Linked DNA regions of Homo sapiens. The protein of the gene in region 4 purifies or fractionates together with the protein of the main gene of each other region. This does not show direct contact. Each region holds a gene or a part of one and is shown on either strand. Other genes may lie near its edges.

Region 1 (7,715 bases), on a different chromosome or scaffold from region 4:
ATGGGTAATGAGCTGGAACTGTAGAAATAAATGAGATTGCATAGGATAAAGTAAAAGTAACAGAAGAGAGAGCCAAGTATAAAGTTCCACCAACATGTTAATGGTGGGCAGAGGAAGAAGACTGATAGAAATGGATTTTTCATTATAAAAGCTTATTTTATGAGGTTTTGTTTTGTTTTTTAAATAAAGCAGTCTAAGGATTTGCCTTCTCAAACAGGGATTGCTTAATAGGAATAACAAGGTAGTGGTGAGGGTAGAATTGGAAAAGTGCTGCTCCATAAGATTGACATTTGAAGCACAGGTGTATCTGGCACTATGATGGAGTTGATAGTTGCCATGGGTATACCTCAGGAACACAGCAGCTGTCCAGTATGTATGCCTTAGATCTACCACATGTGTAGAGTGAGTTTTTTTCTCTGTATTTACTCCATTGTCAAATTTAGAAACAGACAGATACATGTGACTCCAACAACAGTAAGTATATTATTCTAGTAACCAAAAAAAACTTTTTCCTAGGGCCTGTCTTATAGACTGAAGGCTGAAATTATTCATAAACTGTAACAAAGAATTTGGTCAATGTCTGCAACCTAAAAATTTGATGTTTTATGATTTTAAAATAAATTGTAAATATTTGGTCTTTTGTTTCAGATATTTTCCAAGTATGGCAAAGTTGTAAAGTAAGTATTCACATTAAATTTTGTAACTTCATTTAAAAGTTTATCTGAATTTGCTTCTACATTTTTTTAATGACAGATTTTTAAAAATAAAACATGCTTGATATAATAAAGAAAATACTATTAACATTTTTATGACAATTTAGTTGGTTTTCCATGTACATAAACATGTAGACAATTTTTCTTAAAGACTATTACATACATACAATTTTCTTTTCTTTTTTAATTTGACATACCATAAATGTCTTTCCATGTGCTATAAAGATACATCCTCATAGCTAATGGTAAACAAATATTTTGGTTACTAGGAAGTGTGTTATCAAGTATACTATAAGTAACCTACTTTCAAATAAATAGGTGGTTTTTTGTTTTGTTTTTTTTCATATAAATAGTGTAAAAACAAATATTTCAGTGCATCTGACTTGCAGGATGCTATGAGTCTTTTAAATAGAAAACATATTATCTTCCTTCAGAGATAGCTTGGAGATCGTTGGAAAGACTAGAAACATGCAAAAATGGTAATGGATGATAACAGGGCTGAGGGTTAGGAACAATAAAAAGAACTTGAACTTCTCGTATTTCACTGTTTTAAATCAAGCAACTATATTATGGGGCAAAAAAGTAACAGGATACTGTCATCCTAACTTTCTTGTAACCAATATAGATTCTGATATAAATTTAAAATCCCAAGAATTTTGAGCATATTTATCTTGGCTAATTTCTTCTAGTGTTCCATAAATGGATATTAAACAGTTGAAGCTCTTTTGCATCTTGAAATTACTAACTTCTTTTACAGTTACTTTGCTATTAAAAAAGCATTATCAAAAATGCTTCTGTGTAAATTTTTGGGTGTTCAGATTTTAAAAAGTCATTGTCATCAGTCCAAACACTGGTAATGATGATGGTATGTGATACTTAAATGAGCACATATATATGCCAGGCATTGTTCTAATCTCTTTATGTGTATTATTTAATTCTCACAACTACCCTTTAAGGTAGGTACTATTATCATCTCAGTATTATACATGATGAAACTGAAGCACACAGTAAACCTAAGGTCATCTTGCTAGCTAGTGGTGGAGAAAATATTTGAATCCAACAGTGAGATTTCAGAGCCCACTCCCTTTTACCTTTTTTCTTTTTCCACTTTGTTAGAATCTCTGAATGGATCTCCATATAAATATATAGTCCTAAACCATGAAACTGCAATGGAGTTAAAGACACGAGAGTTATAAGCACCTAGAAACAGGGAAGACTATCTAGTCTAGAGAGCCAGGGAAGGCTTACCTAGGTCAGTATTTTTTGAGTGGAAACCTAAAGGATGAGTAAGAGTTAAGTAGGCAAAAATAAGGGAGGAATATTTCAGGTAGAGGGAATAGCTTGTGCAAAGGCCCTGTGGCAAGAGAAAATAAAGTGAGATCAAGAAATAGAAAGAAGGCCAATGTGACTGGAGATGAGTGAGTAAGGGGGAGAAAGCACAAGGTGGCTCCAGAGATGGAAGCAGGTTCCTCATCTTACTTCTTGGTCAGGTTACCAAGGTATTTGGTTTTCATTCTAAGAATATCAGGAATCATTTAAGAATTTTAAGTGAGGGGTGACATGATTTAAATTTTTTAAAGTTTATTCTGGCTTAATGTAGAAATTAGATTGGAGGGGAACAAAAGCAAATGCAGCTGGGTGCAGTGGCACACACCTGTAATCCCAGCACTTTGGGAAGCCGATGTGGGAGGATCACTTGAAAGGTCATGAGTTCAAGACCAGCCTGGCCAACATGGAGAAACCCCATCTCTACAAAAAATACAAAAAGTAGCCGGCCCTGGTGGTACACACCTGTAATCCCAGCTGCTTGGGAGGCGAGGCATGAGAATTACTTGAACCCAGGAGGCGGATGGAGGTGGAGGTTGCAGTGAACCAAGATCACACCACTGCACTGCAGCCTGGACAGAGCAAGACCCCATCGCAAAAAAAAGAAAAAAGCAAATGCAGTGAGACCAGTCTGAATCTAAAACTGTAGCCCAGGGGAGAAATGTGTACTAAAATAGTACAGGTGGAGATATAGAGACTGGTCAGATTTGAGAGGTGGTCAGATTTCAGAGATCATTATGAAATAAAGTGGGTAATAGTGATGTGTATAGGAAGCAAAGTGGGTACTATTTAGTGATATGCTTACTTTGCGTATAAGGACTTTGTGAACAAGAAGGAGGTGTTATGGATGACATTCAGGTTTCCCAAAATAGTGTATGCTTCATATTATGTGCTTAAATAAGTACATCATATACCTTATATTAGGAAATGGTGCTATTATCTACCTCTTTTCCCTTGCCAGAAACATGGGAGTCACAGTAGATTTGTCCTTTTAAATCTCTGATGTAATTTTTTTTTTCTGTTACCACAGAAGGTATCTCTATCAAAGTATTGTATGATAGTTGGTTTGTTGGTCTGTCTCTACCACTAAACTGTAAGATTTCTCCTGAGGGTAAAAACTACTGTTAGTGCTTAGCACATGGGCTTGAGGCTAACAGAGTGACTGAGTGACCGAATGAATGAACACACACAATGTACTCTTTTAGAAACTACTTTTCCCATTTTTTTGGTCTGTCTTTCCCATTGAATATAAAGGTATATCTATCAATCAACATATTGAGCTGGGCACATATGGATTACAGAGACAGCCTTAAAGGAGTTTACATTAAAATAGATGAGATGAGGCATTGTTTATGAATAACACAATTCAGCAGAGACTAGCATAACGGAGGAGAAATTATATCCAGTTGAAGCTATTAGAAACTGACACATTGACCTGAACCCCGAAAGAATGAGGAAAATTTTAATGAGCAGTGATTCAGAGGTGGAAGAAGATAGAAGCTGTATGAACAAAGGCACAAATTTGGGGAAATACAGGCCATGCTACTGGAGCATTGAGTGGTTTCTTTTGGGTAGACTTCATAGTGTGTGCGTGGGAAGGAGCAGTGAAAGATGAAGGAGATGGGAGCCAAATCATCAAGGATACTGACAGTGGGACAAAGAATAGGCAACTTACAGAACCAAAGATTTTTGAACAAAGGAATGGTGTGATTTTATTTATTCCTTAAGTAGAAGACTACTTAAGGATATGAGAAAATTATAAGAGAAAAAATTACCATAAAGGAACCAATAAGAATAGACTGTTAAAACAGTAATGCCCCTATGGACAAGAAAAAAGCAGTGGAATTGGAAAAGAGGCAACAGATGAGAGATCATTAATTGAGGATGATGTAGAAAGCCAATACTTCTTTTGAAATACTACTTTAAAAAAAAAGACTGATAACTTTCACAAACATTACGAAAAATTCCAAAACATAAAGCAACTACCTTATTCAATATTTCTGTCAAATTGGTGATTTTTCCAACTCCAGCATTCCCTCTACATTCACCAGTCATCCCTTGGCATTCTGTTGTAAGCAAGAGCCTTCCCTCCCATCTCCTCCACTTATTTATTGGTCTTTTATCAGTAAGAATTATAAATTCCTACCTTCTCTGTGGCTTATAATTTATTACTGTAATGAATTATTTTGATGCTCAAATTGTCCTTGATTTGGCCAGTGGGAGCTCCTTCCAGCTGGCTGCTGTATTCTTGGCCCCATCATTCATTCATTCATTCCTCCCTCCGTCTCTCTCTCTCTCACTCGCTCACGCACTCTTGCACTCTCTTACCTTCTGGCATAAGATGTTCCAAGCTCCTCTTGTACCTGCCCTGCTGTAGCCTTGGAATCCGCTATTTCTCCAAAGAGCCCTGTTGAACATTGTTTTTAAACTATGTTAAATGACATACGGTGGGCAAGGGCCTCCATGACTAGGGATGTGGATGGGGCAGGAGAAAGAGCAGGCTCTGTGCTCTCATAACTCTCCTTGTCACTCAGGTACACCCTGGTGGGTGGTATGGCTAAAAACCACAGAACTGGAGATTCTTTTTCCCTAAAGATCGGGGTCTCATTATGTTGCCCAGGCTGTTCTCAAACTCCCATGCTCAAGCATCCTCCTGCCTCTGCCTCCCAAGTAGCTGGAACTACAGGTGCGCACCACCACAACCAGCTCTGGAGGGTTTTTTTCCTTATTTTTCTGAAGATTCTTTAAAAGAATATTAAGAATATACTTTGATTCTAACACTTAGAAAAATAAATAAATCATTTTACTTTTTGTGTAAAGTATACCTTTATTTTGTTTTGTTTTGCAAGGTGAGGGAGTTAGCATGGAAGAGGGATTGTGGTTACACTTTAAGATTTCATTGTCTCTGTAATTTCTTTACTTCACCCTTCAATCTCTGATTAACTCCTAATCATAGCTGTGCTCACTTCTGTTAAATCAGTATCACCCTTTCCCATTTCCATTCTTGATATCCCTTGACTTTGAAGAGATAGCTGATTTTTCAAATGTATTAATTTATCTTATAAATTTTTAGCCCTTTTTAAAATGAATTTTTCAAGTATTAGTATCTGTTTTATTTATTGCTGCCTCATTTTTAACTCTTTGTTTATGCTTTAAGGGTTACCATCATGAAAGATAAAGATACCAGGAAGAGTAAAGGGGTTGCATTTATTTTATTTTTGGATAAAGACTCTGCACAAAACTGTACCAGGGCAATAAACAACAAACAGGTAAGCTATTCATCTCCATCAAGGTTTTTAGCCCCAAAGCCTTTATGCTCATCCAGGCCAAAAATGTGGGGATATAGTGGATCATCAGGTCTAGCAGATATCAGTAGATTCTTAAGATATCTAACTTATAGAAAGAAAAGAGGTCAAACTACTGGGTTCTCAAAACATTGGTGGAATCTCAGGAATAAGAATACTACAGAATAGAATTTATCACACCTAAGTGACAATTGCTAAAAAATCCAAAATAAACTGGAATTGAAGATTTGAGAAAATTGATTAAATAATTAATTTTAGGTTTCAGTGAAATACATTCTACATTTACATTTTTCTCTTGTTTAGTTATTTGGTAGAGTGATAAAAGCAAGCATTGCTATTGACAATGGAAGAGCAGCTGAGTTCATCCGAAGGCGAAACTACTTTGATAAATCTAAGTGTTATGAATGTGGGGTAAGTAAACCTAAAACTTAATGGAACTTTCCATAGTTTAAGATACTTTTCACATCAGTCTTTTATTTTTGCTCACCAAAACTTCTGACTGGCTAAACCAGATTATGAAAATGCTTTATTTTTTAATATTTATTTTTTTGAGATAGGGTTTTCCTCTGTCACCCAGTGCAGTGATGCAGTCACAACTCACTGCAGCCTCTACCTCCCGGGCCCAACTGATCCTCCCACCACAGTGTCTGAGTAGCTGGGACCACAGGCATGCACCATCACACCCTGGTTAATTTTTAAATTTTTTTGTAGAGGCAGGGTCTTCCTATGTTGCCCAGGCCAATCTCAAACTCCTGGGCTCAAGCAGTCCTCCCACCTCAGCCTCCCAAAGTGCTAGAGTTACAGGTGTTAGCCATGGTGCCTGGCCTAGTTGTTAGGGTCTCTAAACTCATCAAAGTAAATTCAATTGAAATGCAATGTGTAAAGATAACCTGAGTTGGGTAATACAAAGTGGTATTTTCTCTAGTTCCTAAATCTTTGAAAATCACTAGTTTTAAAAGTGTTAGACTGATTACTTATGTCACTGTCTTGCAAGATTTTCGTAACTCATAAATTTTTGTTAATAGGATATTGCCTGTTTCTTTAACAGTTTTTAAGTCACAGTTCAATAGCAACATTATCATGTGACTTTATCCTCTATGGGATATTGTGTTTTGAAGTTTTTTATTTTTTCCTATTAGTATTGCTAGTGTTTTGTAACTGAACTATCCCCACATTTTCTTCTTTGGTTCTCTTCATGATCTGTCATTATCCATTTAAAGTTTTGGTGATGAAGAGAGAGAGACAGCCATAGAATAATTTTGTATAAGGTCTGTATTGGTACCAAGAGAATTTTAGTCTGGTTCTCACAGGTGTAAGTTTGTAAAATGACCATAAAAATACTTAAGAAACAGGCCGGGCACAGTGGCTCACGCCTGTAATCCTAGCATTTTGGGATGCTGAGGTGGACGGATCACTTGAGGTCTGGAGTTCAAAAGCAGACTGACCAACATAGTGAAACTGAGTTTCTACTAAAAATACAAAAAAAAAATTAGCCAGGCATGGTGGCAGGTGCCTGTAATCCCAGCTACTTGGAAGGCTGAGGCAGGAGACTCGCTTGAACCCAGGAGGTGGAGGTTGCAGTGAGCCGAGATTACTCCACTGCACTCCAGCCTGGGCAACAGAGGGAGACTCTGTCTCAAAAATAAAAATAAACATAAAATAAAATACTTAAAAAACAGAGTCCAGAGGTAGTAATGGGGAACTGGGGAGAGAATCACTGAAAGATACCGTCCTGGCTACAAAATCACATGGAAGATGCAAGGAAATGGCTTGAGGTCCTCTACCCCACTGTCACTCCCCATACCCCCGACAAAAAAGATAACTAAATAAACAGACTGATGGATGGATGAATAGAAAGAGTGAGCAAGCAGTTGCTTGGATACATACTGATTCTGTCAATTCCTATGATTCTAAAACCTCTTAAGTAAACACTTTAGAAACTTTTCCAAAGTTTTGAGTTTTGTAAAAGAAAGAAAGGGAGGGAGGGAAGGTAGTTATATTCAGATTAGTATATATCTTCATATTCACAGTAAATATTAAATTATCTGAGAAATCCTAGATGAATCTGTTAATCGGTTCCTTTTGGTTTATGGATCCATAGAGTTGTTATATTTTTTACATTTTTATATTTAATTTCCCTCCCTCCAAAAAAAACTTTTTTATATTGACCTAGCCTGGTTTTTCTCAAGTTATTTCATTAAATCCTTTTTTAGTATGGGATATGTTAATTTTTTTTTGCTATAATATTATTCCAAAACAGTTTCAGATATGTGTCTCTATTTTCTCAGCAGCTCATTAACAGTAAGTAACCTCTTTAAGTTGGGCTATGTCCTAGGTATACAAAGTGCACAGTCTGTCTGCTCTGTCAAAT
Region 2 (8,119 bases), on a different chromosome or scaffold from region 4:
TGAAGTTTCCCAGGATTATGTATATGCAATATTGTAAGATTCAATTGCAATCTGAATGTAGAAGAAACAAATATGAGAATCCAGTTGTCTTCCATTAAGCCAAATCATAAATACTTTTTACATTTCTGCTTTAACTTCTAATATGAAAAACATCAATAGACGTAAGACCCTATATACACAAGTTATTTGGGGTCAATAATTTTCTAAGTGTTAAAGAGTCCCGAGACCAAATAGTGTGAGAACTGCTGATCTATACAGAAGACGGATGCCAGTTCTTCAAGAGAAAGAAATTGTTTCCCGGTCTCACACTTTCAAAGATTATGTTACAAAGGACTTTGTCTAATACTTGATCTTAGCCAAAAGGCTGAAAAGTGATGATTTTGTGTAACAAATATGAATAGTAGGTAACAGATAGGGTTACCAGATAAAATACTGTGCAATATTTGGGATCCTAATGCTAAAAAAGGTATGCATTGTTTATTTGAAATTCAAATTTAACTGAGTAGCCTGTTTTTTGTTTTGTTTTTGCTAAATCTGGCAACACAGCAAGATGTTTGTGAAACGCCTTTAAAAGAAAGAGACAGAGGAAGGGAATTTCACCAAACTGTGAAAAATGGTAAAACTTACAATAAATTCTTGGCTTTCCATTATTTCTTCTGAAGTTATAAACCAGCTGGGTCCAGAAAATAGGAAATATTCAACTATTTATACCACCTAAAATTAAAAATGACATAAAATTTCAACCCTGATTTTTAAAAAATATCAAATATAATTTTTCTCAATAAACTCCCAACCACAGACATGAATCAAGGAGTTCCAAGATTACCTAACTACCAAGGGAAACAGAGGTGTAATTATCTATCACTGAGGACACAGTAAAAGTGATACCATGCTGTGAAACAAGCATTTTTTCATAAGTAAAGAAAAAACTAAGTAAAATACATAAATTAACTTGTAGTCTGCATTTTTCCAGATGCATAATATGTATCAGAAAACACGAATTTGTCCTCCACATGTTTGGTTCCCTATAGCGCAAATTCAATTTTTAAAGTTTTCTGAATTGCTACGGTTACCACAAGATGGCCCCCTTGTGTTTTAAATTTTTCCTTTCACTTCTTAGCATCAATATACCACAGTATCTAGGACCAATTACATAGTACCTCTACAAGGAAAAATCTTTCCAACACTGTTGCAACAGTTACTGTAGTTGTTATGCTATTGGATAAAACTGTTTTTGTGGGCAAATTTGGAAATCTAAAATCACTGATGGTGATCCCTGAAGAAGTAAACAGAAATGCCAAAGAAACATACTTTCTTTTTTTTCCCCTAAGGTGGTTCTCAAGATGTGACCCCTGGACCAACAGTATCATCTGGGAACTAGTAAGAAATGACCTATTAAGTCAGAAAGTCTGGGGTTGGGGGCCCAGCAGTCTGTGTTTTAAGAAGCCCTCCAAGTGATGCTGATGGACACTCAAGTTTGAGAATACAGATCTAAAAGACCTAGAAGGATTCAATAAAGCTGTAATTGTGATTTCAGTTCCTCTTTTAGACATATAAAATATGCCACTTACATATTATTTATAAGTTACATATATTTATTCAGTACTTACTATTGTGCCAGATATTATGCTAAAGTATTTAAATGGAAACTCTATCCTCCATCTGAAGGAATTTCAGTATGGCGGGGTGATAAACAGTAATTTTAATAAAATAAGGCAGGAATAAGCACAGCAGGGGCACCCAGCTTGGTGTGGATCATCAAACAAGGCTTCTTCAAGGAAGTAAAGTCTAAGCTGTAAGCTGAAATAACCCTTAGTCAAGGGAAGGCCAGTGAAGGTCTTCCCAAACAAGAATTGCAGGCCTGTGATCCCAGCACTTTGGGAGGCCGAGACAGGTGGATCACCTGAGGTCAGGAGTTCGAGACCAGCCTGGCCAACATGGTGAAACCCCTGTCTCTACTAAAAATACAAAAATTAGCCAGGTGTGGTGGTGCGTGCCTATAATCCCAGCTACTTGGGAGGCTGAGGCAGGAGAATCACTTGAACCCAGGAGGCAGAGGCTGCAGTGAGCCGAGATCACGCCACTGCACTCCAGCCTGGGCGACAAGAGCAAAACTGTCTCAAAAAAAAAAAATAAAAGGGCGAGGCGGGGGCGGTGAAGTGCAAGAAAGTGACTGGCATCTTCCCTTGACTAATCAAGGTGATCTGGAGAAAGAATAGGTAAGGGGTATGCAAATGAGATATGCATACTTGCTTCGTGACACAGGTCACAGGACAGAAACCAAACCTACAGAAGGACTGCCTTTCAGAAATATAACTCCTGGCCGGGTGTGGTGACTCACGCCTGTAATCCCAGCACTCTGGGAGGCCATGGCGGGTGGATCATGAGGTCAGGCGCTCGAGACCAGCCTGACCAACATGGTGAAACCCCGTCTCTACTAAAAATACAAAAATTAGCTGGGCATGGTGGCACAGGCCTGTAGTCCCAGCTACTCAGGAGGCTGAGGCAGGAGAATTGCTTGAACCCGGGAGGCGGAGGTTGCAGTGAGCAGAGATCACGCCACTGCACTCCAGCCTGGGCGACAGAGCGAGACTCCATCTCAAAAAAAAAAAAAAAAAAGAAATACAACTTCCACATCCTATCTCCCTCCCCTCCGGCGTACATAAATTGCTGATGCCTAAGAATGCCAAGAAGATAAAAGAGAGATCGAGAAAAACACTCCTGGGCTAGATATGCTGTATACATAGATGAGAATACATGGTACAGACACAGTGCTGGGCATGTGGCAATTATTAATATCAGATCTGTTTAATAGCTACCATTTATTCAGTGCTACCATATGCTAGAAACTGTTAAATGCTTTATTTGGAGGTTTTGTTTCTGTTGGCTTTTTAACTTTTCTTTTTCTTTTACAGAGACAGGGTCTCACTCTGTCACCTAGGCTGGAGTGCAGTGTTGCAATCATAGCTCGCTGTGGCCTCAAACTCCTGGGCTCAAGCAATCCTTCCAGCCTCCCAAAGTGCTATATTATAAACATTATATACATTATATTGTTAATTATATACATTATAATTATTATGTAATTATATAATATATAACTATATTACTGTATTATGTAATATACAATTATATGATTATCGTGTGTAATTATATATATTTATTGATTACATACTATGTATCAGGCAGGAATTGGACGAGATACTTTACATACAGTATTTATCAGTCTCATAATCCTGAAGAATAAGCATTATTACAATTTACAGATTAGGAACCCAGTATTTACTAGTTTAGGATAACTTATATGCTATTTCACAATTGCAAGATAAATTCTCCATTATTTTCCTAAATTGAGATATTACTTCTGGAATGTACAGTTTAAAAAGAACTAAGAAGACTGAAACTCTTAAAGGATGGTTAAATTCGATTATAGGAGAAAACCTAAAAAAAAAAAGCTAACTGGATCTTTTAAAATTTAGAAGAGCTCTAATACTTATTCATTGAAAGTCAACACCCTTTCTTATCTTAGTATTAATCAGAAAAAATTATTTTAGACAACAGCATCATATATATTTAAGTGAGATGCAAAGAGTTTTTTCCAAGTGTTCATCTGTCCACGTCTACCAGACAATTCACCTGTTGACCGACTTCTAATAGGTGAAAGATTAATCTCCAAATAAGTTTTTAAAGACCCCAGATGCTCTGTGATAATTATATACATACATACATACACACAGATATACGTACATACACACATATACATACATATACATTGTGCTACTATATGTACGGACGCAATATATATACATAAAACTCGGTGTTCTCAGTAAAGTATGAGCCATTATTCATTTAAATACTAGATATTTTTCCTTTTTTTTTAAACAAGGAGTATTTTTTGAACCTAAACCTGAACCTCTAAATAGTTCGGATAACAAAGTTTTGGAATCATGAACTCAACATTGTTAACAAACCATCCAGTCCAAATAAACAAAGGAAACCCACATCTCATTTGCCAAGATTCTAAGAACCATAATCCTGTCACCAAATGACAATGGAGACTTGATCCTTTCTCAGTCCTAAATACAAACAGCAAAGCCCTCTTTGGTCCTCATACCTACTCGAAATTGCAAAGCAAGGCCTGGGAAAAACGGTGAAGAGGCACCACTTACTACAAGCAGTCCGAGTAGCTGTGACTGCGACCACCCCAATCCTGGTTCCAAACAGCATCCTTCCCGGTTCTCTTCTTAAGGAGCAGAGTCTTTCGTCCCTTCGCCCCAAATCGCTCAAGTCATTCCTAGGAAATCCCGAGAAACACTTCACCTCACCTGTCAAATTGCACAAAATCCACTTTCGAATTTCTCCCGCGAAACAACGTGACGTCATTAACGCGGGACCTCACCAGATGAGGACCCAAAACTTGGCCCGCCCACCTCCGCCTAAGCCAAAAACCGCCGCTTTCAAATCGCCAATCAAATTCTTCCTTGGCTTCGAGTCTCTCAGCCGGCCGCGCTCTCCGATGCCCAGCCCTCCTGGAACCACCTCGCCTGTGACGTAGGTGGAGCGCGCACTGCCTCCGGGCCCGTCTTTCTCAATTGGGACCGGAAAACGTTGTCGCTCATCCTATGACGCGAAAGTAACCGAGACTATCAGGATCCGGAGACGGAAATGTCCGAAGGCCGCAGTACTTGACCCTGTATTTTGGGAGTCGAACGGAGTAAGTTACAAGCGGCCTATAGGGTCGCACAGCTTGGGCGAAGTCTAATTAACTCTCCGTCCTTTTTCTTGCGGTCCACTCTATCATCTATCGTCCTTCTTACCCCGCCCCCCCGTCCTGCACACCCATCAGTTCCTTGGCCTAGTTATCTATGCGCACGCGCAAAAGTCTTCGGCAGCACTTGTAGTTCCCGTTTTCAGACAGTAAGGGCGCATAGGGGCCCGGCGTGGGGAGGTTTGGGGCGCGCCCGGCCTATGACGGCGTCCTTGCGGAAGTACGGGTGCCGAGAGAAGCAGTAGTCAATAAAGAGAGTGCCGTATTTCGCAGATTGGAGCTGAGCTGTGGCTGCCAGAAGATAGCGAACGTGAGGATTTATATTCTAAAATTATCATCTTCTTTTGCAGGACTCTGCCATCGTCCTCAAAGAGTAAAAAATCCAGTTACGGAAGGGAACTAACACTTGCTAGATATGGTGTGCAGAGTGCGTTTGCAAAGAAACTTAAGAGAAAACAAATGATAGGACACAGGGTGGTGGAAGATCTCAAAGAGTAAGATGCCATTTAACCTGGGCCTTGAAAATTTAATAAGGAAATTTAGACGAGAAGATTCAGACAAAGCAGAACACACAGGCCACTACGTGTTGAGGGACTTGAGTTGTAAGCAGTGACCAGAACAATGATTCTTAACCTGTTGTGGCACACTTCTTTTGAAAACTTAATTATATGGATTAGCTTCTCAGGAAAACGTGCATGTACCTATTAAAACATTTTGCGAGGCTGGGCACGGTGGCTCACGCCTGTAATCCCAGCACTTTGGGAGGCCGACGCGGGAGGATCACTTGAGGTCAGGAGTTCGAGACCAGCCTGGCCAATATGGCAAAATCTCGTCTCTACTAAAAACACAAAAATTAGCGGGGAGTGGTGGTGCACACCTGTAGTCCCAGCTACTCAAGAGGCTTGGTTGGGAGAATCGCTTGAACTCGGGAAGCAGAGATTACAGTGAGCCGGGATCGCGCCACTGCACTGCAGCCTGGGCCACTGAGAGAGGCTGCGTCTCCAAACAAACATTTTTCATATAATTTCCTCAGGAGAAATTACGAAATACTTTTAAATAGCAAACACACACAAATGACTTGGTGTCTTGTCTGACTCACTCTTCCAAGTTATCTATGTCTTTCGTGGTCTTTGAACTATTTTTCAACCCTGTAACTCGCTACAGCAACATGGAAATTAGGTTTGTCCAGTAAAGATGCAATTAATTATTGTCCTGAGCAGTATTTATTAATATTCATTTCAACGTTCCTGATTGCCTGTGTACCTGCTTTTTAAATTCTCCTTTGAACTGGTTTTTAGCACTTAACTGGTTCCCTTATTTACAGTCAAGCACCACATACCGACAGACCGCATGTATGACAGTGGTCCCATAAGATTATAGGTGAGTAATAGGCAATAGTACCTAGGTTTGTGTGAATACATCATAGAATAACTACATACTCAATGATGTACTTACTCACCTGACTGTGCATTTCTCAGAATGTGTCCTTGTCGTTAAGCAACCCATGACTGTGCTTAAATCTTTACCGTGTATTCATTTTATATTTGTACAAGAGTCTTGATTTTACCTTATCTTTAAAATGTATCATTTACAATTTAATGGAGCCCACTAGAATTCTTGTCCAGCCAAAGTTGCATGGACTTCAGATTAAGAATTCCTGAGTCAGAACATAGAGTCCGTGGTGATAAATTGCGGGAAATTCTACCAAAAGGTAGACAATGTGGGATCAAACATACCTGGGACAACTTACTTAGCTAGCTTTGGCCAAGTCACTTAAACCTTTTTGAGTTTTTGTGTTAAGATGGAAGAAACTGCTACCTAGTGGGATTGTGAGGATTTACAAAAGTGTATATAAAGTTACTGGTATTGTTACCCAATAACTTTTATTCTTCATTTAAAGCCAGTTAAATGTTACTTTTTTTTTTTTTTTTTTTGAGACGGAGTCTTGCCCTGCCGCCCAGGTTGGAGTGCAGTGGCACGATCTCGGCTCGCTGCAAGCTCCGCCTCCCGGATTCACACCTTTCTCCTGCCTCAGCCTCCCAAGTAGCTGAGACTACAGGCGCCTGCCACCATGCCCGGCTAATTTTTTTCTTTTCTTTTTTCTTTTTTTGTATTTTTAGTAGAGACGTGGTCTCACCTTGTTAGCCAGGATGGTCTCCATCTCCTGACCTCGTGATCCGCCCGCCTTGGCCTCCCAAAGTGCTGGGATTACAAGCGTGAGCCACCGCGCCTGGCCAAGTGTTACTTTTTTTTTTTAAAACAGTGTTTTCATAAACTGCATATTATGTTACGGGAAGGTGCTAAGGAATTTCTAATGTTGCAAGTTTTGACAGAAGCATCACAAAACCAGGTCTGTGTTTTAGATGGGTTATACATAGGCTCCTGTTGAGAATGGGTGACTTACAGAACAGTTTATAAACTATTGGCATATTCTAGTGACAGTTGTAGCAGTAGTTGTAGAAAACACTGGATGGAGATGAGAGCCATTTCAAAAGTCAAACTGATAGGATTTAACAAGAGATTGGATAGAATAATTGGATAGAATTATTGATAATTGGATAATTATCAATAATTTATAATTATAGATTATCAATTATAGAATTATAATTATCAATTATAGAATAATTGATAATTATAGCCTACGTTTGTGTTTGTTCGTTTTTGAGATGGAGACTGAATCTGTCTCCCAGACTGGAGTGCAGTGGTACGATCTCGAATCACTGCAACCTCTGCCTCCTGGGTTCAAGCGATTCTCCTGCCTCAGCCTCCCGAGTAGCTGGCATTACAGGCATGGGCCACCACACCCAGATAATTTTGTTATTTTTAGTAGAGACTGGGTTTCACTTTGTTGGCCAGGCTGGTCTTGAACTTCTGACCTCAAGTGATACACCTGGCTCGGCCTCCCAAAGTGCTGGGATTATAGGCGTGAACCACTGCACCTGGCCTATTTGTATTTTATTTACATCCCACAACCTTACAAAGAATTTGAAATGCTTAACACTTTACAGGTACTTTTAAATTTGTTTTTTTATTCAACAGATACTTAGGTACTGATGAAGTTAAAGTTCCTGCCTTCATAGTGTCTACATTCTGGTGGGATAGGTAGACAATAAAATTAAAATTCCAGGCCGGCCATGGTAGCTCACACCTGTAATCTCAGCACTTTGAGAGGCCCAAATGGGCAGATCACTTGAGGTCAGGAGTTTGAGACCAGCCTGGCCAAAATGATGAAACCGCATCTCTACTGAAAACAAAAATTAGCAGGGTGTGGTGACAGCTGCCTGTAATCCCAGCTACTTAGGAGGCTGAGGCAGGAGAATCACTTGAACCTGTGAGGCAGAAGTTGTAGTGAGC
Region 3 (8,052 bases), on a different chromosome or scaffold from region 4:
ATAAATAAATAAAAGTTCTTACTGGAGAGAAACCTTATGAATATTATGAATGTGGGAAAGCTTTTATCCAGAAATGTATTAAGTACCAAAGATTTAATATCTCATGAATACAGAAAGTATGAGAAAACCTTTGCACAGAGCTCACACCTAATTCAGCATCAAAAAATTCAGTGGAAAGAAGTCATAAGTATGTAATTACTGTGGAAGAGCTTTCCATTCAAAATCACACCTTATTCAGCAGCAGATAATTCACAGTAGAGAAAAGGCCCGTGAATGCAATCAATGTGGAAAGCCTTCAATTGGAGCTCAGCACTTGCTAAAAATCAGATAATTAACACTGGAGTGAAACCTAATGGATGTAATGAATGTGGGAAAACTTTCATCCAGAGTTTAAATCTTATTCTGTCAGAGTTCATGCTGAGAGAAACCATATGAATGTAAATGAATGTGGAAGAGCCTTTAGTTACAGGTCACACCTTATTTCACATCATAGGATCCACACAGGAAATAAGCCATATGAATGCAAGGAATTTGGCAAAAATTCCCATCCAAATTTGTACCTTATTTGACATCAGGATATTCATCACAGAGAGAAATTACAGGAGTGTAATGAATGTGGGAAGGTGTTTGGTCAGAATCCAACCCTTGTTATACATCAGCAGATTCACATTGGAATGAAATCTGATAACTACAGTAAATGTAGGAAAGTTTTTTTGTAGATTCATAGCCCCTGCAGAACCTAAGGCAGTTCCAGGTAAAGAGAAACCCTATGGGTACAGTGAATATGGGAAGACCATACAGAATTCATACCACTTTCTGGATCAAAAAGAATCAAAGAAGAGACAAAGCCTATGAATCTCATGCATGTGCAAAAACCTTATATTATGTGTCAAAACTTATTAAGTATCAGGGTATGTAGTCTTTAATAGTTTAGAGCCTGTTCAGTAGCAGAAAATCCACTCTATCAATAAACTTTATGAACATAAATACTGTGACAAAGTCTTCAGGCTAATTTTAAGTTTAAAAAATCAGGCTTTATCATAGAAAAAAATGAGAAAAAAATAAAAGTAAAATGTGATCCAAACTTGTAATTATGTTAATGGAGACACAGTATATATAAACATATTTAGATATATGTTTTCTTTCTTTCTTTTTTCTTTTTTTTTTTTGAGACTAGGTCTTTCTCTGTCACCCAGGCTGGAGGGTGGTCGTAGAATTTTGGCTCACTGCAACATCCGCCCCTGCACCATCCCCCTTCCCACCGCTGCCCAAAGCAATCCTCCTGCCTCAGCCTCCCAAGTAGCTGGGACCACAACCGGCTAATTTTTTAAATTTTTTGTAGAGACCATGTTGCCCAGGCTGGTCTCAAACTCCTGGGCTCAGGCAATCTGCCTGCCTTGGCCTCTCAAAGTGCTGGGATTATATGCGGAGCCACTGTGCCCAGCCTGGATATCTGTTTTCTTAAACTGTGTCCTTCAAGGTCAGGGTACTTCTCTTGTTCTTTCACCGTACCCATCCCATTGCCTTATTCATTCAGCCCCTTAATAAATATTTTGGTGTGATTTGCTAACTATGGAAAAATCTTTTCTGAAGACTCATGTTTCCTGCCACAAGAGGAACCATAGAAAATATAGCACTGGAAAGGCAACAGTTCAAATCCAAGGTTATTCATGATTACATCAACCTACAATTACTGTGCAGCCCCTATGTGCCTGGTAGTGTGCCTGACAATGGCAAATCAGAGATGCAGAAACACTTGGCCTCTTTTCCTCATATCTCTCAGTCTAGTTGGGATACAAAGGTATGTAGAGACAGATAACCACATCAGTACAGTAATAGAGGTAAGAATACAGGGTTGAGTGGGGTCCCAGAGGTGGGAGAGGTCTACAGAGATGGCTCATTTTCAAAATTCTGAGAGACAATAACTGTTAACCTCAAATTGTGTTTCTATCCAAACTATCCTCCAGGAATTAGAATAAAAATAGGCATTTTCAGATGAGCAAAACCCAAAACACCATAACAGATTTCATTAAAGGAGCTTTAAAAGGATGTACATTTAAAGAAATGATATCAGAACTGAGATATAAGGAATGATGCCAGGCATGGGAGGCTGAGGTGGGAAGATTGCTTGAGCCCAGGAGTTCAAGACCAGCCTGGGCATCCTGGTGAGACCCCATCTCTACAAAAAATTACAAAATTAGCTGGTATGATGGTGCATGCCTGTGGTCCCAGCTACTTGGGAGGCTGAGGCAGGAGGGAGGATCAGTTGAGCCCAGGACAACCTAGGTGACAGAGTGAGACATGGACTCTAAGAAAAACAAAAGTTGTATATTTGAAAACACTGACTGTAAATAGAATTAAGTCTAATATGGCAGATTTAAAAACAAAGATAGAAATGAAGTCAAGACAAAAATAGCATATGAGTCAGGAAGGTAATGGATAAAATCAGAGCATTGAAAGTGAGGCAGGATAGGTAGTCAAGGAAGTAACCATGTCCTCGGGATGCAGCAACTGTTGTGACTGTGCAATCAGCACAATAAGCCTCTGCCTTCACATTGTGGTTAAGCTCTTTCAAGCAAAACTATCTTCAGTAGAGAATTTCCCCTGCAAAGAGCATGTACATTTTGATTTTACCTGTCCTCAGACTGACCTTTCGCTCATTATAATAGTAAAAAACAGAGCCCTGGTTGGAGGTTTAAGATGCTAATAAGACATGTGACATGTACGAACAATCATATACCAGCATGTAGAACAAGCATTGTATGACAAGAAGCATTGTATGAACAAGCATGTAAGAACATACAGCTACCGCACATGTGCACTCAGAGGACCATCCAGAACATACTCACTAGTAGCACCTCTTCCCAATTCCTTATGAATAATCATGTAAGACCCCCATAAAGGGAGTCTCCCTCATGCGTCTTTGCTGCCCCAACCTTATGAGCAGCTGGCCCTCAATCCTCTCTCTCTCTCTCAGGGTGTACTGTCTATTGTTCACTTAACTTTCCAAATATTCTTTCTCCTTTGTAATAAATTACTGTATGCCGCATCTCCTTTACTGCGTGTCCCGTTTAAATTCTGCGTGTTTTTTTTTTTTTTTTTTTTTTAGATGGAGTCTCGCTCTGTCACCCAGGCTGTAGTGCAGCGGTGCGATCTTGGCTCACTGCAAGCTCCACCTCCCGGGTTCATGCCATTCTCCTGCCTCAGCCTCCCGAGTAGCTGGGACTACAAGTGCCCGCCACTATGCCCGGCTAATTTTTTGGTATTTTTTAGTAGAGACGGGGTTTCACTATGTTAGCCAGGATGGTCTCAAACTCCTAACCTCGTGATCCGCCCGCATCGGCCTCCCAAAGTGTTGGGATTACAGGCGTGAGTCACCGCGCCCGGCCAATCCGCCGAATTTTGGGAGTAATGTATCACACTGCAGTAAATAACTATCAGTGATGACCAAACTGTAACCCTTCGAGACCTTGCAGACCAGGCAGCTAACACTTCCCACCCCACCGTCTCAGGAAACACCGCTTTCCACTCCTGTGTCCCCGAAAGGAATCATCAGACATCTCGGACTCTTACCTTCTCAAGCAACACAACCCACCCTCCTGGCATAGCCCGTTGCCCCCCTGAAACCCTACTCAGCCTCACCTCAACCCCTACGCAATTCCTCTCGGTTGTCATGCCTCCATCGGCGGGGGTCGAGTGTTGTGTGTGACCCCAGGTCTCTAGCAAGGTATAGTGGGAGGGAAGCATCCAGGGGAAGAGAGGTGGTGGGATGGGGCTCTCCCTCTCCCCCATACCGCCACCCTCCCTCACGTCCATATCCTGTCCAAGGCTCTTCCCGCGTCTGCTTCTGAAACCCCTCCACGTCCCTCCACCCCATGTGCCCCACTCGTTACACAAGAGCAGAGAGATCTGCAGAACATACGTCTACGATTATGCCACTCTTCAGATTTACATCTTGCAGCGACTTCCCACTGCGTTAGAACGGAAGTAAGCCCATGACGGGGGCCCTCCCAACTCTCAGACCTCACCCGAGCCTCCACGTCCCGAGACGCCGGCCTCTCAAACGACCGCGCCCTGACCCTCGCTCTTCCCCATTTCCCAGGGTCTTTGCCGACCACCCTCTTGCGCCGTAGCTGCTCACGTGCTGTTTACTTGCTTTTCCCTCCCCACCAAAAGGTGAGCCTTGAGAAGACACACCCTCGTGGAGAGCTTTGAACTTTTATCCGGAAAGGTGCCGGGCACGTAGTCAGCGCCCGCGATCACTCGCTCACAAGGGTTCTTCCGAGACCCCTCTTCAGCCTCTTCCCCGAACCCCCAGGCCCCGCCCCAGCCCCATCTCAGCTTCGTCCCAGGCGCGTCCCAGCTTCGCCCCGTCCCAGCTTCATCCCACCCCAGCCGCGCCCCGCCCCGCCCGCTCCCCGCCCCGCCCGCGCCCCGCCCGCGCCCCGCCCCGCCCGCGCCCCGCCCGCGCCCCGCCCGCGCCCCGCCCGCGCCCCGCCCGCGCCCCGCCCGCGCCCCGCCCGCGCCCCGCCCGCGCCCCGCCCGCGCCCCGCCCGCGCCCCGCGGAACCTAGAGTCGCAGGCGCGTTCTTGAAGGACGGAATTCGGCGTCGGACTCTGCGCCCCGCGTAGTTCCGGTGGCGACTGCGGCGCATGGCGGTGAGCGGTGTGGAGAAGACGCGCGGGTGGCTGGGCCTTGCATTGTTGGCGGCTCTCGGTGACCCTCGTGCTACCCCCCTTTCTCCAGGCCCTGGGACATCTTGCTGGGGAGGCAGCGGCGGCCCCAGGCCCGGGTACTCCCTGCGCGTCCCGCGGAGCCCGGCTTCCCGGCCCAGTTTCCAGCGCCCGGAATCCTTCCACTGTCTGTCTCTGCCCAGAGCAACCTACGTGCAGTAACGCTGACTCCAGAGCGCACCCGTTGGGCGATGAAGGCGGCACAGCGTCGAAAAAACAAAAGAATAAGAAGAAAACGCGGAACAGGGCCTCTGTGGCAAATGGAGGCGAGAAGGCCTCAGAGAAACTCGCCCCAGAAGAAGTTCCCCTAAGCGCTGAGGCCCAGGCAAGGGCGGGCTTCGGTCGGGAAGGGTGGAATCCACGGGTGCGAATCCACGGGCACGTGTGATCTGGGGTCCGCGGAGTTAAGGCGGGGAGGGGCATGGGATGGGGCCGGCGGCTATGGTTTTCCAGTGCCCTCTCACAGCCACTTCCCCAAATCCATCACAGGCACAACAGTTGGCCCAGGAATTGGCTTGGTGTGTGGAGCAACTGGAGCTGGGCCTCAAGAGGCAGAAACCCACCCCGAAACAGAGTAAGGGACCCTTCTGTAGAGCTGGGGGATGTGAACAGTGGCACTGCCTGGCCTGCAGGTGCTGGCAGAGTATGGAGTTGTTGGCTTTGCGGCGGGGTGGTAGGAGGTCAGTAATAGAGGTGTTCACTAGTCCTTTATTTTTATTCGCAGAAGAGCAGGCTATTGGAGCAATCCGAACCCTGCGCAGCAAAAGAACGCCCTTGCCCCGGAAGAGGCAGCTGATGCACTCCTTGTTTGGAGACTATAGGGCTCAGATGGAAGCCGAATGGCGTGAGGCCCTGCGGGCTCTCAGAGCTGGTGAGGAGCTAGCCACTGGTTGATTCAGGAAGGCCTAACTTAAGGAGGAAGTGTCTAGGGGGTGAAAGGAAGAAGGCCCAGAGCAACAAGCCTGGTGGGGGAAGGAGATGGGCTCAGGGAAGCCTGAGGGAGCAGGGAAACAGAAAGCGTGGACCTCTCTTTCCTCTTCCTAGGACTGAACCTGGGAAGCAGCGGGGAGGCCCTGGGAGGAGTGGGAAAGAGCATGGTCCTATGTTGGTCCTGCTCCTGGGTTGGGGAAAGCTGCCTCATGTCTTTGTGTCTTGGCTTTCTCTACTAGCAATGAAGCCATATCCCATAACAGTTTGAGTGCAATTCCTGGGGCCAGATCAGCTAGGTTCAAATCCTGGATCTACCACATAGTAGTACTAACACCTTTTGCAAACTACTGAACCTCTCTAAGTGGGGGATGATAGTAATATCAACCTTACAAATTTGAGGAATTAATCAGTTAATTTATGCAAGGTGGTTAGAATTGTATGGGCAAACATAACTGTACAGGTAATGTTAATTGTTATTATTCAGTTCTGACATACGCTGCTTCTCTCCCCGACAGCTGCTTATTCAGCCCAGGTGCAACCTGTAGATGGAGCCACCAGAAAGAAGAGCCAAAGGGTCTGCAGGCCTCGCTCTATATGGAGAGCCAAAGCCACTCTGGACATGCCTGATGAAGAGTTTAGGTTCAATTTCTTTTAGCGTCTCCCCGAACCTGAAACAATCCCCCTCCCTTGGGGTGGTGTAGGGGTTTGTTTTGAGTGCAGAGCCTTTCCAGGACTTCTGTTGTCAGAGAACCCTGGAGTTGGTCTGTCCCTGGCTGGTCCAAGGATTTGTAGCTGTTGTGAAGGTGTGAGACCATCAGATAGGCAAAAGACCCCGTTCGTTTTCTGATGAAATGTTCTCTCTTTCAGAAGAGAGAGAGAGGTGCATTTAGAAAATATGCAATAAATTGAAGTGAGTGTTCAAAGTATTGTAGAAGGAATATTGTACTCAGTCTTTAGGATTAGATTAAGTGGCTGTTGGTAACAAAGATTAGTGGAGAAGCTGTATAATCGTACACTGGTTTTCACTTTTGAAAGGAATCCCTGTCAAATGGTTTAGTGCTTAATGCTGTTATGTCATATTGCCCTAATCTCTATTTTTGATAAAATTGGATAAGGAGTGAAAGAGTATGCTGACCACCTATGTTAGAGGAAGTACAGAAGATGCAGGGGTGTGGTATCCCTGGGTCCAGTCCCTCACCTGGTACCTTTGTGCATGTTGCCTTCATTCCTGAGCAGGTATCATCCTCAGGGAACCAGCATGGCACCTACCAGGCCAGGCTCTGTTCTTAGGAGCAAGGAGCTTCTTGCGCTAACAGTTCTGGCCTGAGACCTGGATTGAGCCTTGGCAGACTTCTTGTCTAAATGTTGGCCATTCAGTCTCAGGCCCTCTGTTCCATGGAATTGGGAATCTCCAGGTGACCTAATCCTCATTGGTGGCTTGATGTTTGCTGGTATCTTCCAAACTCAGTTCCCAGACTAGATTGATACCTGGAGCCCAGCTGCCTACTCAGCATTTCCACTTGGGTGCTTCATAGGCATTTCAAACCTGATGTGTTTAAAACACTTGATTAGGCTCCGGTTTTCCTTTGGCTTCTGCTTTTCAGTGAATGGCATGACTGCCTATGTGGGTGGCAAGCCACCCAGGTGCCGAGGAAAGAGACTGAGGGCACGAGCTGTTCCAGTATAATAAAATATATAAAATAAGAAGAGTTATACTAGATCTAGATCATAGACATGATTATATGTGAGTATCATTAATCATTAGTTTATAGCAATTACTCTTTATTCCAATATTATAATAATCCTCACTCTACAATCATAACCTAGGAAAAACCAGGCCATACAGAGATAGGAGCCGAGGGGACATAGTGCGAAGTGGCCAGAAGACAAGAGTGTGAGCCTTCTCTTATGCCCGGACAGGGCCACCAGAGGGCTTGGTCTAGCAGTAACACCAGTGTCTGGGAAGATGCCTGTTGCAAAGTGGACCATGGTCTAGCAGTAGCATCAGTGTCAAGGAAAAACACCCACTACTTAGCAGACTGGGAAAAGGAGCCTCCCTTTCCCCGGGGGAGTTTAGAGAAGACTACTCCTCCACCTCTTGTGGAGGGCCTGACATCAGTCAGGCCCGCCCGCAGTTATCCAGAGGCCTGTCTCCCTGTGATGCTGTGCTTCAGTGGTCACGCTCCTAGTCCGCTTTCATGTTCCATCCTGTATACCTGGCTCTGCCTTTTAGATAGCAGGAGCAAATTAGTGAAAGTACTAAATGTCTGATATGCAGAAATAATGGCATAAGCTGTCTCTCTCTCTTCTCTCTCTCTCTGCCTCTGCTGCCAGGCAGGGAAGGGCCCCCTGTCCAGTGGACACATGACCCATGTGACCTTACCTATTA
Region 4 (7,715 bases):
CAAATTCATCCTAATAATCATCTAATATTATTTACTACTACTACAGGAACTGAAAAACTTATTTCATATATATCACTTTTCCATATCTATTTCACACAAATAAACAACTAAATATTTGGTACAACTTCTAATTCCACATTAACCATTCATATTTTACAACCTAAAAATATCTATAAACAAGCACCTTTGACTTTGTAATATTTACATATGCTCAAGGGAACATTTTGCCAGAAGATCGTATGGTTGGCTTCAAAAGAATCTTTTAAATTTTCATGTATACTTAGATTAAATTTTTAAGAGACTAGCTCCAACTAACATGAGAAATGAAAGAATACAAATGACTGTAACTTTTCAATAACCTTTTCTCACAGACTGAAAGAATATCTGAAGAAAACATTTTGAAATTACTACTTAACTATTATTTGATGTAATTCTAAAATGTTTATAAACCCGTAACTTGTAACTTTCCTTCCAAGAATCTTTATAACAGGAGTACTATTTTTCTTATTTGATTTGCTTTGTTTAGCTTAGCTTAGCTATTAAAATGGCTAATTATACTGAAGATTTTACATCTTTCCAACTTAAATCAGCAATGAATATACATCTTCCTTTCAGCTACAAGGAAACATATACAAATGAAAAATATTTAAACTGAATTCTTAAGTTATTAGTCCTAATATATCCCATATGCTAACCTAAGAGGCACTCTCCTTAATTATCTTCAAATTCTCATCCTTAGTTCAAACATATTCCTTAAAAAAGAAAAAACAAAAGATTATTAAAAATTATACTTACTTTAGCCAACAATTCTTGTGTTTCAGGAGTCAGTGGAGCATGAGAAAACTTGCAGTATTCTCCCTGATAACATTTTGTTCCTGTATGGTAAAACTTACAAGGATATTCATGTAACCCAAGTGTTAAGGAAGAGAACAATTTTAATCCAATTGAAATAATGTTATTAACTTAATGACTTTATTTTTCCTAAATAAAGACCTCTGTGGCCGGGCGAGGTGGCTCATGCCTGTAGGAGGCGGAGGTGGGCAGATCACTTGAGGCCAGGAGTTCAAGACCAACCTAGCCAACATGGCGAAACCTCGCCTTTACTAAAAATCCAAAAAAATTAGCTGGGCATGGTGGCGCAGGCATGCCTGTAATCCCAGCTACTCAGGAGGCTGAGGCACCAAAATCATTTGAACCTGGGAGGCGGAGGTTGCAGCGAACCAAGATTGTCCACTGCACTCCAGCCTGGGCAACAGAGCAAGATAATGTCTCAAAAAAAAAAAAAAAAAAAAGACCTTTCCTACTAGCAGAAACTGGATTTCTCTATTTAAAGTATGAGATAATAAACTAACTGGAATACATTTAAAAATCTAATTTTAGAAGGACTACATACGTAAATCAAGTTTCTTGGCTATGACAGGACATTTTTTTCCTTCATATCCATTCTTATAATAGAGTACAGGCATGTTTCATATATGAAAGGGGTATATATTTTAAATACCTTGATAAATGTGATCATTTTTAAAGCATTCCTTTGGGGGTGGAGGAATCAAAGTCAACAACGACATATCTTACAAATCTGGATCCTTTGTACATTAGACTTGTTTACAACAGAATAAATTTATATAACTTCAATATTTTCTAGGAAAACAATCCTCAAATTACAATTTGATACTCCTTATATTGAATGCCTGAAGAAAAAAATTTTTTTGTGATGACTAAAGGTGCTATTAACCTAAAATGTTTATGTTCCATGTTTTTACAACTTGTCTGTGCCATTTGCACTGAAGAGCTAAGGCTATTCTGCAAATTAAGGGATGATTAATTTCTACACAGTACAGAATACACAGAAAACAGGTACTCCCAAATTATGTAATCCTTGCCTTTTTATGAAGTAGCTTATTTGAATATAGATTCAATTAATCAGTGTCACAGTAGAAATTGTGATAAGTCTTTCTGGGATTTGAAGAGGTCTCATGGACCCTCTATACCACCCAGGTTGAGCAGAAAGAATCATCATTTGAGAGATTTTCTAAAGAATCCCTCTTTTCTTGCTTATGAAAAAATCCACGTACAATTTAATCACTTTGATACTAAGTTGGGCTTGGATAATATCATTTTGGTATACCTAAAACACTGGTTTCATTAAAAATTTTGCACATTTAAAATGTTCATGTAAATATTTATAAAGTCACCATATCTTGTGATAAAGGATATTATGCAAATACAGACAGTTTTCACCTCTGGTACAATATCCTTGTACATAAAACTTACACATTTCCTTTTTCTTTTCTATCTCTGCATCATGATCAAATTTACACTGGTCTCCCTAGGCCAAAAGAAGGAGCAAGGAAAAGCCATTATTTCTCATAGTCAAGTCATTATGATTTAATTCCTACTAAACTTTAAATAAGCAAATGATTCCAGAAAGAACCAAAGTCTTAGAGGTAGCACATTCTAACTGTTAATAAATTATAACCACATCACATATATCTGCTTAAAATCTTCTTAAGTCCCAAACATTTTTAAACATAAAGCATTTTTTAAAATTATCAGTCGCTCACGCCTGTAATCCCAGCACTTTGGAGGCCGAGGTGCGCGGATCATGAGGTCAGGAGATCGAGACCATCCTGGCTAACACGGTGAAACCTCGTCCCTACTAACAATACAAAAAAAATTAGCTGGGTGTGGTGGCTAGCGTCTGTAGTCCCAGCTACTTGGGAGGCTGAGGCAGGAGAATGGCATGAACCCAGGAGGCGGAGCTTGCAGTGAGCCGAGAATGCGCCACTGCACTCCAGCCCAGGCGACACAGTGAGACACCATCTCAAAAAAAATAAATAAATACATAAATAAAAATTATCTGACTCAGGTGATCCACCCACGTCGGCCTCCCAAACTGCTGGGATTACAGGCCTGGCTACTTTTTTAAACATAAAAGAATACTTCACTAAAATTTTCTAACTGATTTTTTTCCAGAATGAAACAGCTTTAAAAACCTAAAGGTATGAATTAAAAGAGTATCAAACAGAAAGAGCAGTTTTACATTTTAGTAGATTTTTGCTTACACATTTTTATACCTTAATACATTTCCTTTCAAGAAAATATTTACAAATTTGTTTTCCCTTGCGTTCCACTGTATGTTGGTTGATGAATGCCTGACTCAAATGCTGCTGCTTCTCTTTAGGTTTACCATCCTTTAAAAACAAAAACAAAAAAACTAAATGTAAGAAACAGAAAATTAAATATTTTATTCTGTTGCACAAAATTATTTAAACCAACTTCAGAGCCTTAAAGGTGACTCTTCTAAATTGGCCTTCATATGTAAAATTTGGATTTCTGTACACCAGGTTAAAAATGAATGTTTTGTCAGTTTCAACAGCATTCCATCATTGAATATTAATGTTTGTATTGATTTGAATATTTTATGATACATTGCCTTTATTTTGTAAAAATGAATGAAAAAAATTTTTTAAATGGGCCAGACACAGTGGCTCACGCCTGTAATCCCAGCACTTTGGGAGGCTGAGGCGGGTGGACCACTTGAGGTCAGGAGTTCAAGACCAGCCTGGCCAACACAGTGAAACCTCATCTCTACTAAAATACAAAAATTAGCTGGGAGTGGTGGTGTGCGCCTGTAAGCCCAGCTACTCTAGAGGCTGAGGCAGGAGAATCGCTTGAACCCAGGAGGCAGAGGTTGCAGTGAGCCAAGATTGCACCACTGTACTCCAGCCTGGGCAATAGAACGAGACTCCATCTCAGGGAGAAAAAAAAAAAAATTAAATGAAAGTGATAGTATTTATGATTAAAAACCGAAGTCTAAGAACGAAGATCTTTAGAGTGGTAGAGACAAAGTTGGAAATCAGAGTGAACCAAAAGCAGTGGAATCTATAGTTTCAATGAGATGCTCACTGGGTGTGAGTTGAGCACACTTATCAGCTCAAATTAACACACGCAACTAGAAATACACCGTCAAAGATGGTGATAAAGGTATAAAAGGAGATTTTTACATTAAAAAAAGGAAGAAAATCTTATAATACATTTAAGCTCTTCAGAAACATAAGGTACTTTTTACATGTTAACTTATGCTACAGATTACAGCTTCTGTATACCAAATTTTTGCATACAGTTTTAGGAATACAGTATGTACAAACAAGGGAGCTGACTGTACAGTCATTTATAATAATGTCAAATTTCCACTTAGCACCATCAAATTTATGTCTTATAAATATCTGCCAGTTTAAATCTTGTTTTATTTGGTAACATTATTAAATTCTATATATATGTTTAGAATTTGTTCCTTGTGTAGAAGGGCTGTCAGCTTTGGCTGAATAATCATTTGAGCCATGTAAATCAAATCAAAGAGAATATTGACAGGGGGTTGAGAAACAAAATCCTAGTCCTGGCTTGGCCCTGTGTGACTATGGGTAATTACCTGAACCACAGGGCTTCAGATTCCTCATTCATAAAATATGGAGGCAGGGGACAGACTGTATATAAATGTTTTTCAATCTAGAATATTTGGCATTTCTAATATTTTACCACCCCTTACCCTTGTCCCATATGACCAAGCCTAATAAAAAAAGTTGCCATCCAGTTAAAAGCCCTCAGAAAAGTGGAATCCAGAAGAGGTACTTATTATTCTACCCTGCTTACATCTACAGACCAAGGAAAGGGAACTTCTAAAAACCAAAATCAAAATACAGGAAGGTGGGGAGTGGGGAGATTCAGTAAGGCCAATGCTCAGAAATATTGATTTTTAATTTCCAGAGGGAGCCAGGATGAGGGACTTTAGTAGTAAAAAATTTGTAAGACTCAGTGGCCTTTGAAATGCCTCATGACTATTTGATCTTCTCTGGGCTTCCCATTTTTCCCGAGTCATTGATAGTATAACACTAAAAAAAAAAAAAAAAAAAATCAAGGAGTGACCAGGCACAGTGGCTCATGCCTGTAATCCCAGCACTTAGGGAGGTGGTGGGTGGTGGGAGCCGAGGCAGGTGGATCACCTGAGGTCAGGAGTTCAAGACCATCCTGGCCAACATGGCGAAACCCTGTCTCTACTAAAAATACAAAAATTAGCCGGGCATGGTGGCGGGCGCCTGTAGTCCCAGCTACTCAGGAGGCTGAGGCAGAAGAATCACTTGAACCCGAGAGGCGGAGCTTGCAGTGAGCCGAGATCGCACCAGCCTGGGTTACAAGGCGAGACTCTGTCTCAAAAAAATATATGTATAACAATAATAAAAAAAATCAAGGAGCTTGTGTGCATATATTCAGGAACAACAGTGAGAACGCTAAGGCTTAAAAGTGGTGCTGGCAGCTAATCAGTGAGAAAAAGAAAGCTGCAATAAGAAGGAAGAACACAGAGAACCCAGTGACAGTAAAAGGACATCTTCATCCGAAAACCGATTCTGTGGGATGCTTCCACCTCTCCATATCACATAGCACTTCTTGTCACTGAAGTATAAGATCAAGTCCAAAAGCATGCAGGGGTCAGGTATTCCTAGAAGCATATATTCCAATACCTCTTCCTGTGAGCCGCTGTTCCTCAGCAAAGCATTTGATCCTTTGTTTCCAGGGCCAGGCCATTTTCGCTTCATTTTCTTCTGTTTGCCATTCTTGTGACCAGCTTTAAGATTTTTATTTTTTTGTTTAGCAGCTAAAAACAAAAAATTAATTTAAAAAATGACATAAAGTTACAATAGCAGTTTACTTTTAAGAAGTACGGGGCCAGGTGCAGTGGCTCATGTCTGTAATCCCAGCTCTTTGGGAGGCTGAGGCAGGAGGACTGCTCAAAGCTAGGAGTTCAAGGCCAGCCTAAGTGTTCAAGGCCAGCCTAGGCAGCCTAGAGATCTTGTCTCTACAAAAACATAGCTGGGTGTGGTGGTGCACGCCTGTAGTCCAGCTACTCTGGGACTATAGGCTAAGGCAGGAGGATTGCTTGAGCCAAGGTGTTCAAGGTTACAGTGAGCTATGACTGCACTGCTGCACTCCAGCCTGGGCAACAGAGTGAGAACCTGTCGCAAAACAAATGGAAAAAAGAAGTATGATTTACAATAATTGAGGAAAGTTCTCTAAGGCTCAATAAGTGAAAACTGGCATGATAGTGATCAGTTTTCCTAGAAGCTCTGGGACTAAGGGACCAAAAAGAGAATTATGATAATACATCCTGGATTCCCCATTCATTGTTTTTAAAAATATATAAGGTATTGTCAAGAAAAAAGCAAGATAATAAAATCAGTCTTATAAGTTCTAAGGCAGATCCTTTTGAAGTGTTCAGAGTATGATGGATCTAATTAGGAACTGCAACAGTAAAACTTTAAGTGTTTACAATGACCTCATAAATTACTGTCAGATTTTTCACTGAAAACATTTTAAATAGATCAAGTTTTTATTTATTTATCTATCCGTGCACGCATTTATCCATCTATCCTGCAATGGCATAATCATAGTCTACTGGAGCCTCGAACTCCTGGGCTCAAGCAATACAGATCCATTTTAAGTAAAGAAAACAACAAAAAAATGACAGCATTAAAATTTTAATTTTTTTTTTTTTTTGAGACAGAGTCTCGCTCTGTTGTCCAGGTTGGAGTGCACTGTGTGATCTCGGCTCACTGCAACCTCTGCCTCCTAGGCTCAAGTGATTCTCGTGCCTCAGCCTCCAGGGTAGCTGGGATTACAGGCATGTGCCACCATACCCTGATACTTTTTTTTATTTTTAGGTTTCACCATGTTGGCCAGGCTGGTCTCGAACTCCTGACCTCAAGTGATCCACCAGCCTCGGCCTTCCAAAGTGCTGGGATTACAGGCGTGAGCCACCATGCCTGGCCAAAAATTTCATTTATAATTGCCATTTGCCCTCATATTTATGGCTAAATCTCATTTTAGTAATCTAGAAGAATATATTTCTGAGTTACAGTCTGACATACAACCATTCCAGTCAATCCTCTTTAAATGACAGCAATACAAGCAGGCATATCCTATCCTTCACACATGCAGAGGCCAGGGCTTTAGCATTCTCCCTTTAGAAATAGTCAGGGCCTTTGATAACCCACCTCCATCCTCCAGCTCCCTCTACAAACTAAGCATTTAATGCACCAAGTGGCCAGGTCTCAGATGGGGTCTCTGGCCATGCAAGCTCATGTCTGGTATAAATATTCATGAAAACCATAGTCTTATCATAAGATAAAGTGCAAAGAAAAATCCTCTGTCCGTATATGGACAACTGTGACTGCTTCTCTAGATAAACTTTAAATGATAAAATAGTTTGACTCTTACCCTGTGGGGTATCTTTTACTCCTTCTTTCTTTGTAGATTCTTCAGGTTGAGCAGCATTTGCCATTTCTCTGGCTTGTATGTACTGTTGAAGCTCTTTGGCAAAATTATCTTCTGATTCCTGACTGCAGATATCATTATCACTATATACATCATAGTCCTTACTTCTTGATTTTCTATGCAGCGAACTTTTTGGTGATATTGCAGAGTGTCTAAACTAAGTAAAAATTAAAACTTCAATTTTAAAAACCTAGCATGATTCAAAACAATCTGGCTATACAGAAGAAACAAGATTGGCTATAAACTGGTCATTGTTGAAGGTGGGTAATAGGTACATGGGATTCATATACTATTCTCTCCACTCATATATTTGAAAATTTCCAGAATTAAAAAAAAGAAAAAATTTCCAGAATTAAAAACAAACTAACAAACCACTATGACATATC

What was found.
Region 1: the proteins of ZC3H8 (region 4) and ZCRB1 purify together in Homo sapiens (affinity purification with mass spectrometry; 4 studies listed by BioGRID and IntAct, with this or other methods). This does not show direct contact.
Region 2: the proteins of ZC3H8 (region 4) and LARP7 purify together in Homo sapiens (affinity purification with mass spectrometry; 6 studies listed by BioGRID and IntAct, with this or other methods). This does not show direct contact.
Region 3: the proteins of ZC3H8 (region 4) and C8orf33 purify together in Homo sapiens (affinity purification with mass spectrometry; 3 studies listed by BioGRID and IntAct, with this or other methods). This does not show direct contact.

The regions. Positions count from the first base shown.
Region 1 is NC_000012.12:42,315,380-42,323,094, reverse strand, and holds part of ZCRB1 (zinc finger CCHC-type and RNA-binding motif-containing protein 1), read left to right. Parts: intron 1-648; coding exon 649-677; intron 678-5,196; coding exon 5,197-5,308; intron 5,309-5,647; coding exon 5,648-5,755; intron 5,756-7,715.
Region 2 is NC_000004.12:112,632,529-112,640,647, forward strand, and holds the start of LARP7 (la-related protein 7), read left to right. Parts: upstream 1-4,614; 5' UTR 4,615-4,711; intron 4,712-4,973; exon of another isoform or gene 4,974-5,075; intron 5,076-5,115; exon of another isoform or gene 5,116-5,259; intron 5,260-6,089; exon of another isoform or gene 6,090-6,145; intron 6,146-8,119. Other genes in the region: 5'-3' DNA helicase ZGRF1, read right to left, coding at 628-648. UniProt on the Homo sapiens protein: RNA-binding protein that specifically binds distinct small nuclear RNA (snRNAs) and regulates their processing and function.
Region 3 is NC_000008.11:145,047,840-145,055,891, forward strand, and holds the start of C8orf33 (UPF0488 protein C8orf33), read left to right. Parts: upstream 1-4,627; 5' UTR 4,628-4,652; coding exon 4,653-4,658; intron 4,659-4,746; coding exon 4,747-5,058; intron 5,059-5,222; coding exon 5,223-5,307; intron 5,308-5,457; coding exon 5,458-5,604; intron 5,605-6,178; coding exon 6,179-6,318; 3' UTR 6,319-8,052.
Region 4 is NC_000002.12:112,231,043-112,238,757, forward strand, and holds part of ZC3H8 (zinc finger CCCH domain-containing protein 8), read right to left. Parts: intron 7,487-7,715; coding exon 7,273-7,486; intron 5,654-7,272; coding exon 5,520-5,653; intron 3,195-5,519; coding exon 3,078-3,194; intron 2,330-3,077; coding exon 2,218-2,329; intron 906-2,217; coding exon 796-905; intron 1-795.